2 linked regions of the Homo sapiens genome follow. The protein of the gene in region 1 purifies or fractionates together with the protein of each later gene. This does not show direct contact. Each region holds a gene or a part of one and is shown on either strand. Other genes may lie near its edges.

Region 1 (4,083 bases):
CTGCCTCAGCCTCCCCGGTAGCTGGGATTACAGGCGCACATCACCATGCCCAGCTAATTTTTGTATTTTTAGTAGAGACGGGGTTTCACCATGTTGGCCAGGATGGTGTCAATCTACTGACCTCGTGATCCGCCTGCCTTGGCCTCCCAAAGTGTTGGGATTACAGGTGTGAGCCACCGCACTGACCTATATTTTGATTTCTAAGCCATTTGAGATAAATCTCTTACATCCTCATAGCACAACATACAGTTGTCACTATTTCCTGGTGCATTTTACACAAGTAAACGTCCTCGTCAGTGATGTAATGACTGCTGCTGTCAAACTATCTCAAATGTTCTTAAAAAAACACAAAAAACAAAAAAACCCAAAACCCATAATGGATGAACACAAAGCTAAAACAAGGGAACAACATTCCTTCTGTTTTCTTCCCACAGCACTCCCTTCTCCAGTTCCAGGTCTCCCTGGCATTAAAATGTAGAGTAAAGGCACAGGGCTTGCCAGCCCAAGCCAAAGGCAGGAATCCAAGCTTTCTCTAGGTCACAGGGTACCTGGGAAAACTCCCAGTGTCTGTCAGCTGGCATCAGGCACTGGGAGTTTTTATTATCAAGCTTTTTTATTAATGAGTTATTACTGATATCAATCCTCAGCTCAATAATAAAGTTGCTTTTCACTGGGTTTGTTTCAAGCCTGTTGCTGAGCTTTGGTACTCTGAAGTCCACAGATTTAATGAGAAGCAAAGAAAATCAATTTAACCCACTTTATTCAAAGAACCTTTTCATTACATTATTTTACTTCCTATGTTGACATATTTCCTACAACACATTTCCGGCTGTACAGTTTTTGCATTGCTATAAAAAATAGTGTTCTACATAGACTCCTTTTTTTGTTGTTTCCGCCTTTTTATTTTTAAGATATTCAGTATCAGTTTTATCTTATGTCAGGCAATTTCATTTTTAGCTTCTATAATGTATCACAAATGACCTTGATTCATTTCCTCATTTGATAAGTAAACATTTCACATTTTGATAATACATTTGTGAGAATACTTAATCACAAGTTCAGCTAGTGTTATGCTTTAAAATAATCACAAGGATTTTTAGTGTCCTTGTTAGTATACGGAAATTAAAATGCACTATCCCAATTTGGGGGCTTTAAGAGTTACTGCCTGTAGAAGCTGCAGTCTTTAGAGAATAAATTGTCTCCAGGCACTATATTTGCAATTCTTACTAAATTACCTGGTTGCCTGGATATCTCCCTGGCCCAGAGAGAAGAAAACCACCAATTTGCTCTTTTTCATAATCTCAAATCCAGAACCTACAAATAGAGTAATTGGTATGCAGATTCTTTGATGACTAGCTCTGCTCTTTGGAGAGCATGTTATGAGTATTTTAGCCTTTTCTTTTAAAAAGGTTAGATTTATTCATCCTTTGACTTCCTCCCACCAATCAGTAAATAAGCAAAAACAAGTAACATTTCAGTAAAATATCCAACAAATAAAATTTTATACCTATTGCCAATGAAAGTAATAAAGAATGTGGATAGTCCTTACGGAGTATGCACAGAGGGCCTCTGAGAAATTACAAAAGAATCCTGGAATCCTGTCAGGGGTATCCAATCTTTTGGCTTCCCTGGGCCACACTGGAAAAAGAAGAATTGTCTTGGGCCATACATAAAATACACTAACACAAATGATAGCTGATGAGCTAAAAAAAAAAAAAAAAACCAAAAACAACAACAAAAAAAAGGGTCGGTGCATAAATCTCATAATGTTTTAAGAAAGTTTATGAATTTGTGTTGGGCCGCATTCAAAGCCATCCTGGGCCAAGGGTTGGACAAGCTGGCTGTAATTACAATTGGATTGCAAAGGACTTGCTCCTTGGCCCTGTTAATCCAGTGAGCCAGAACTCAAATCATTTCTTTCTGCTGAATCATCAAGCCCAAGTTAACAATTGAACACTGCATCCTGAACTGAAAGGTGCAAAGGTGAAAGCAAGTTTAAACAATCCCAATGATTTTTCTCTTTGTTAAATGGCAGAAAACAACCAGTTGAGTATTTATCCTTTTGCAAAACCAGTTAACTGAATTCCAGTTATTTGTTCCAATTCAGAGTTCAGTTTTCATTGCACTTCATACTGAGTGGTTCTGTCACTGTTTCTTTTGACACAGAAGTAGGCCCAGTGAACTGACTACCATCGATACAGCTTGTTCTGTCAATGTCAAATCAGTCTTGAACCTGTCAATCCAAATTAATCAACAGTATTACTTTGGTGACAGGCAATCATATGTTTAATTAGTAACTCATGCTTCTGGCATGAAAACAGAGCTAGGGTTCTCAACTCTGGGCTGCAAAGCAAAATCAGGTAGCAGCTTTTAAAAAATACAGGTGCCTGACTTGTCCTAAGATGCTGATTCAGGAGATCTGGGGTAGGGCCCAAGTAACTATTTGGAAAAAGCTTTCCAAGTGACTCTAATGCAACAGGGGCAGAGACTGTCACAAAAGGTACTGATATAAATAATACATGATGGAAGGGGAAGTCTGTACTTCTTCAACAAGGACAGGAGGCATTGTGTCAAGGACTACTCAAAGTGCAAAGATGATTTCACATCTTTTTTTTTTTTTTTTTTTTTTTTGAGACAGGGTCTCGCTCTGTCACCCAGGCTAGAGTACAGTGGTGCAATCTTGGTTTACTGCAACATCTACCTCCCTGGCTCACACGATTCTCCCACCTCAGTCTCCCGAATAGCTGGGATTACAGGCATGTGCCACCACACCTGGATAATTTTTGTATTTTAGCAGAGATGGGGTTTCACCACATTGGCCAGGCTGGCCTCGAACTCCTGACCTCAGATGATCTGCCCACCTCGGCCTCCCAAAGTGCTGGGATTACAGGCATGAGCCATTGTGCCCAGCCCGTTTCACATCTTTCTGGAATGTCAATTTTACTTGACAGGTAAGCAGTTTAAAATGTCATTTTTATTTTGGGTGGTGATTTCATAGATATATATATATATAACTGTCAAAACTCATCTAACATTTAAAATCTGGACATTGAATTGTATCTTTATTATATCTCAATAAATGTCATTTTAAAATTAAAATATGGATACATTCTAGAGTATAATACAAAATCTGCATTTTCTTTTTAGATACACTCTGAGACTTGAAAGAAGTCACCCTCTGAGATGGGTCCCTGATATGGTTTGGTTATGTCCCCACTCAAATCTCATCTTGAATTATAGCTCCCATAATCCCTACATATCATGAGCGGTACCTGGTGGGAGGTAACTGAATCATTGGGGAGGGTTTTTCCCATGCTGTTCTTGTGATAGCAAATAAGTCTCAAGCTGTGATGGTTTTATAAATGGGAGTTTCCCTGCACACACTCTCTTGCCTGTCGCCATGTAAGACGTGCCTTTGCTCCTCCTTCATCTTCCACCATGATTGTGACGTCTCTCCAGCCATGTGGAACTGTGAATCTATTAAACCTCTTTTTCTTTATAAATTACCCAGTTTTGAGTATTTCTTCATAGCAGTATGAAAAGGGACTAACACAGAAAATTGGTAATGCAGAGAGTGGGGCACTACTGTAAAGACAGCCGAAACTGTGGAAATAACTTTGGAACTGGGTAACTGGCAGAAGTTGGAACAGTTTGGAGGGCTCAGAAGAAGATAGGAAAATGTGGGAAAGTCTGGAACTTCCTAGAGACTTGGAGGGCTCAGAAGACAGGAAAATGTGGGAAAGTTTGGAACCTCCTAGAGACTTATTGAATGGCTTTGACCAAAATGCTGATAGTGATATGGACAATAAAATTCAGGCTGAAGTGGTTTCTGATGGAGATGAGGAACTTATTCAGAGTTGGAGTAAAGGTCACTCTTGCTATGCAAAGAGACTAGTGGCATTTTGCCCCTGTCCTAGAGATCTGTGGAACTTTGAACTTGAGAGAGATGATTTAGGGTATCTGGCAGAAGAAATTTCTAAATGGCAAAGTGTTCCAGAGGAAGCAGAGCATACAAATTTGAAAAATCTGCAGACTGACGATGCAGTAGAAAATAAAAACCCATTTTCTAGGGAGAAATTCAAG
Region 2 (4,083 bases), on another chromosome or scaffold:
TCCGTCTCCCAGGTTCAAGTGATTCTCCTGCCTCAGCCTCCTGAGTAGCTGGGATTACAGGCATGCACCGCCACACCCAGCTAATTTTTGTATTTTTAGTAGAGATGGGGTTTCTCCTTGTTGGCCAGGATGGTCTTGATCTCCTGACCTCGTGATCCGCCCACCTTGGCCTCCCAAAGTGCTGGGATTACTGGCGTGAGCCACCACGCCCAGCCTTTCACAGCTTTTGTTGTTGTTTTTTATTAATAGCCATCCTAGTGGGTATGAAGTAGTATTTCATTGCGGTTCATCCATATTTAAAGTCTAAATACTGTACTTTATATTGATTCCTGTTAAAATTGCAATTGGATTTGCACTACCATTCTGGCCCTTCTGGATCTTTAAGACAGTGCTTTATCATGCTTGATTTCATTTTCTAGACACTTAATTTTTAAGTAAAATAAAAAGAAAACAAGTAAAGAAAGTTGAAAAAGGTACCTTTACAATGGCAAGATCTGGCTGATGCTAGCTAGCTCTTCAACCGAGTGTTCAAACTTACAATACTAGTAACGCTGGCCATGAAGTGCCCCCACCATGTGACACAATGGGAGAATACAACAGCCCATGTAGCACACGTGTCAAAAATGTTACCCTGAATGTAGTCATGTGGAAGCAATCAGATAAATCCAGGCTGTGGGACACTGTTATAGGACAACTGGCCTGGATACTTATAAAAAGATGAGGTCAGGGAGATAATGGGGCCAGAACATGTAAGGCCACTGTGACGACTTTTACTCAGATCAAGAAGGGTACATAAGAGGCTCCTGTGCCGGGCTGTGACATGACTTGACTTGGGTTTTAATGGAATCACTGTGGCTGCTCTGAGGAGGAAAACCTCCAAGGGATCCAGGGCACAAGCAAGGGGACCATTTAGCAAGCTCTTGCAGTACTTCAGCACAAGACAGTGGCAGTCTGGTCCAAGACAGTGGCAGGCGAAGTGGTGGGAAGTGGTACACAGAGTCTGAATGGAGTGTGACAGGCTTTCTCATAGACTGAATATTGCATATGGAGTAAGAGAAGAACAGGGGTTGAGATTATTCCATGATTTTTTGGCATGAGTGACTATTCTCATTTCTTGAGGACAAGAAGAGTGTTGAAGGAAAAGCTGAAGATGAAAGATGTGAAGTCCAGCTTTGGATATGTTAGGCTGGCTAAGTGGGAAAGACTATTGGAAACAAAAGTCTGAAGTTCAGGGAAAAGACACAGCTAGAGATAAAATTTGGAAATAAACTGAAAGGCCGTGCAGTTACATCAATTTCTAAATTGCTGAACACTTCCCAACAAAAGTTTCAGAAAAGATTCTCAACCAATCAGAAGATCTTTCCCAGCAAACAAAGGGCTAAAATCATGCCTTGAAACTGTTTAACCTTTCTATCAATGACATGAAAGAAGACAGGACATGCAGTGCACAAAAATCAAAGTGCAAAAAATAAAATTGGGTAGTATAAAGCAAGCTCAGAAAGATCCAGAAAGGCCCGAATGATGGTCCAGAACCAAGACAAATTTAAACAGGAATCAATATACAGTACAAGATTTAGATGTTAAGGATGGATTAAATGCTTAAGTCCAGAAAGGGGGCAATCTGGTTTAGCATAGTTCATAGAAGAGGCACTCCAAAAAGAGCAAACGTCATACGTCATTTCAGAGACAGTGTACAACCTGTCCCTGAAATGCACTGGGCAGATCAAGTCAGGATAGAACTCACAAGAACCCATACAGGTTGCCCACACATCCAGGAGGGGTATCTGGTCCAACTGGTATTCTGGAAGTGCTTTCTCAAACTGAAACTTTTTGGAAGACAGAGACCAGGACAACCACGCGTCTAAACACTACCTTGTGACGAATGGTTGAAGGGCTGGGGATTTCAGCCTAGAGAAGAGAAGATATTGGTGGATGGACAGGGTCGGGGGCATCAGTGCTGTTTTCAAAGCTTTGAAGGACTGGCACATGGAAGTCAAAGTAAACTTGCCCTTCACTGCTGGGGAGGGCAGAGTAGAATCACCTGGTAGATTTTACAGATCTAGTGGTTCACTAGATTGATGAGCTGTCAAAATGGAAAATGTGCCCCCCACAAAGAAGGCTGAGTCCCTACCAAAAGTGCGCATCGAGGGAAAGGATTCTCCTCGTCTGTTACGGGGGCAGCCCCTTACTCTAAGCTCTGGAGCAGGCTCTTGTAGACTGTACCACAGCCCTCCCCATCTTGGGGATGCACCTGTTCCTTTGTCCATCATCATCCCACAAGGCTCCTTGTGGACAGGGGCCATACTTGTCAATTCTGGTTCTGTCACTCTTTCCCCACCCAGAGTATGGGAGATGTTCAGAAAGCGTGTGCTGACCACAAAATGTTGAGAAGAAATTCCAACACAAGGCAGGAAGGGGGGGTCTGTGTAACCCCCAAAGCCTATGATTCAATAAAGTGGTTCACATATAAACTAAAGGTGATCTTACTGTCAAGCAATATCATTTCAGCATATTTTATACCTGGCTCCATCAACTGTGAGGCGGAATCAAAAGGGTCGAGGTAAGGGAAAAGCTTCTCGCCTGCCTCCGGAAGTGAAGCCGTCCTTCCAGGAACATAGAATATCAGGGGAACATGGGTAGCAACATCAAAATTGCTGTATTTGGCCCATTCTCCATGTTCACCTAGAGCCCACCCTAGTTCATAAAAAGCACAGAATGACAGAAAATGAATAATCATCATACCACAGCTTGTTTATTTTAGATACCATTTCATTTCCTGTTGTAAAAACCAGAGGAAGTAGAAACTCATCACCTAGAAGAAAAATATTCACTTGGAATTACCACAGAAAGGGTTATTTCAACTGAATGCTGCTTTATTCAAAATCAGGTATTTGTCCTCATGAGGAAACCTTTAAAAAAGAAAAAATAATTAAATTCCCAAACTCAAATATCTTAACAAACTACTAGCAACATATACCTAACGTAGGACTCTGTGGCGGTTCCCACACATGCGTTCCTCCCCTGCTAAGACATGCTCATTCTTGACAGGCTGGGAACCCTGAAAGCTGTAGTGTCACCACTGCCCTGTCCTGTGCCTACCTGTCTTTTGACTCATGCCCTACGAGGTCAGGTTTTCAGTTTGGGGTATGTGCCACCTAACAGTGAGCTGTGGAACTGCAACACACTCGGCAAATTCAAAAAAGACAAGGACATCTTCGTTGATTTTTAAGACATACCATAGATAGGGTAAACCAAAACCTCTCATTTCAGATCCTTAACCTCAATTAAAAACAACCCTTCATGCCTATTTAAAACATCCCTTGCAAAAGATGGTTTGAATATTCCAAGTTGGAAATACCCAGTCTTTTAAAGTTACAGCACCCTTTTTGATACAAAAAATGTGCATGACAGAAATTGTACAGTGAGTAGTGTTATAAAAATAACCAAACACACCAAAAGCTGCCACGGGTAAATTTGAGAAAGTGTTGAAATGTACCGCACAGCATGAGACCTTGCTGGCTCCGTCTAATAGATGACGCTGGGGCTGCAAATGATGTCCCAGCCTTCCAGGGCCTGTGGTCTCCAGAACAGGGCTGAAACCTGTTCTGAGTTGACAGTGCTTTCCCAAGGAGACCCCAAGTTGAGAGGACCCTCTTACCCACTCATCAATAATCAAAGCAGACTTGATGCCCATCAGAGATGCCCAATGATTCTGGTGAGCCGTTCCTCCCTCTGGCTGTCAGTACTGGGGAGTATGGTGGGGACTTTCAGATAGCTCAGTGGAGCTCAGAAAGAGAGGGAGTTCCCCCTGACACCCGCCCCAGTCAGTAAGCCCCGGGGCCTGAGGGGCATCCCCACTGCTCGACCTCTCCACTCTCTCGGGGAGGACGAGGCAGCCTTGACCCACGAGGGCTGATGAATGGGTAGGTTATCGGCAGGCTCCTAGGCCACCAGCTTAGAGGTCACATTGTCCCTTTTAGATTCAGTGTGGCGGGAATCTAAAAGGTCAAGGATCGAGAAGCCTGCAGGATGGCAACGTGAGGGAACCTGGCAGTGCGACCTCAGGAATCCACTCCCGGAACT

The links. The genes of interacting proteins can lie anywhere in the genome.
Region 2: the proteins of BTD (region 1) and IDS fractionate together in Homo sapiens (co-fractionation; one large-scale study listed by BioGRID). This does not show direct contact.

The regions. Positions count from the first base shown.
Region 1 is NC_000003.12:15,604,591-15,608,673, reverse strand, and holds part of BTD (biotinidase isoform 1 precursor), read right to left. Parts: intron 2,234-4,083; exon of another isoform or gene 744-2,233; intron 1-743. UniProt on the Homo sapiens protein: Catalytic release of biotin from biocytin, the product of biotin-dependent carboxylases degradation.
Region 2 is NC_000023.11:149,484,405-149,488,487, forward strand, and holds part of IDS (iduronate 2-sulfatase isoform a preproprotein), read right to left. Parts: intron 2,910-4,083; coding exon of another isoform or gene 2,884-2,909; exon of another isoform or gene 2,727-2,883; intron 2,695-2,726; coding exon 2,521-2,694; intron 1-2,520. UniProt on the Homo sapiens protein: Lysosomal enzyme involved in the degradation pathway of dermatan sulfate and heparan sulfate.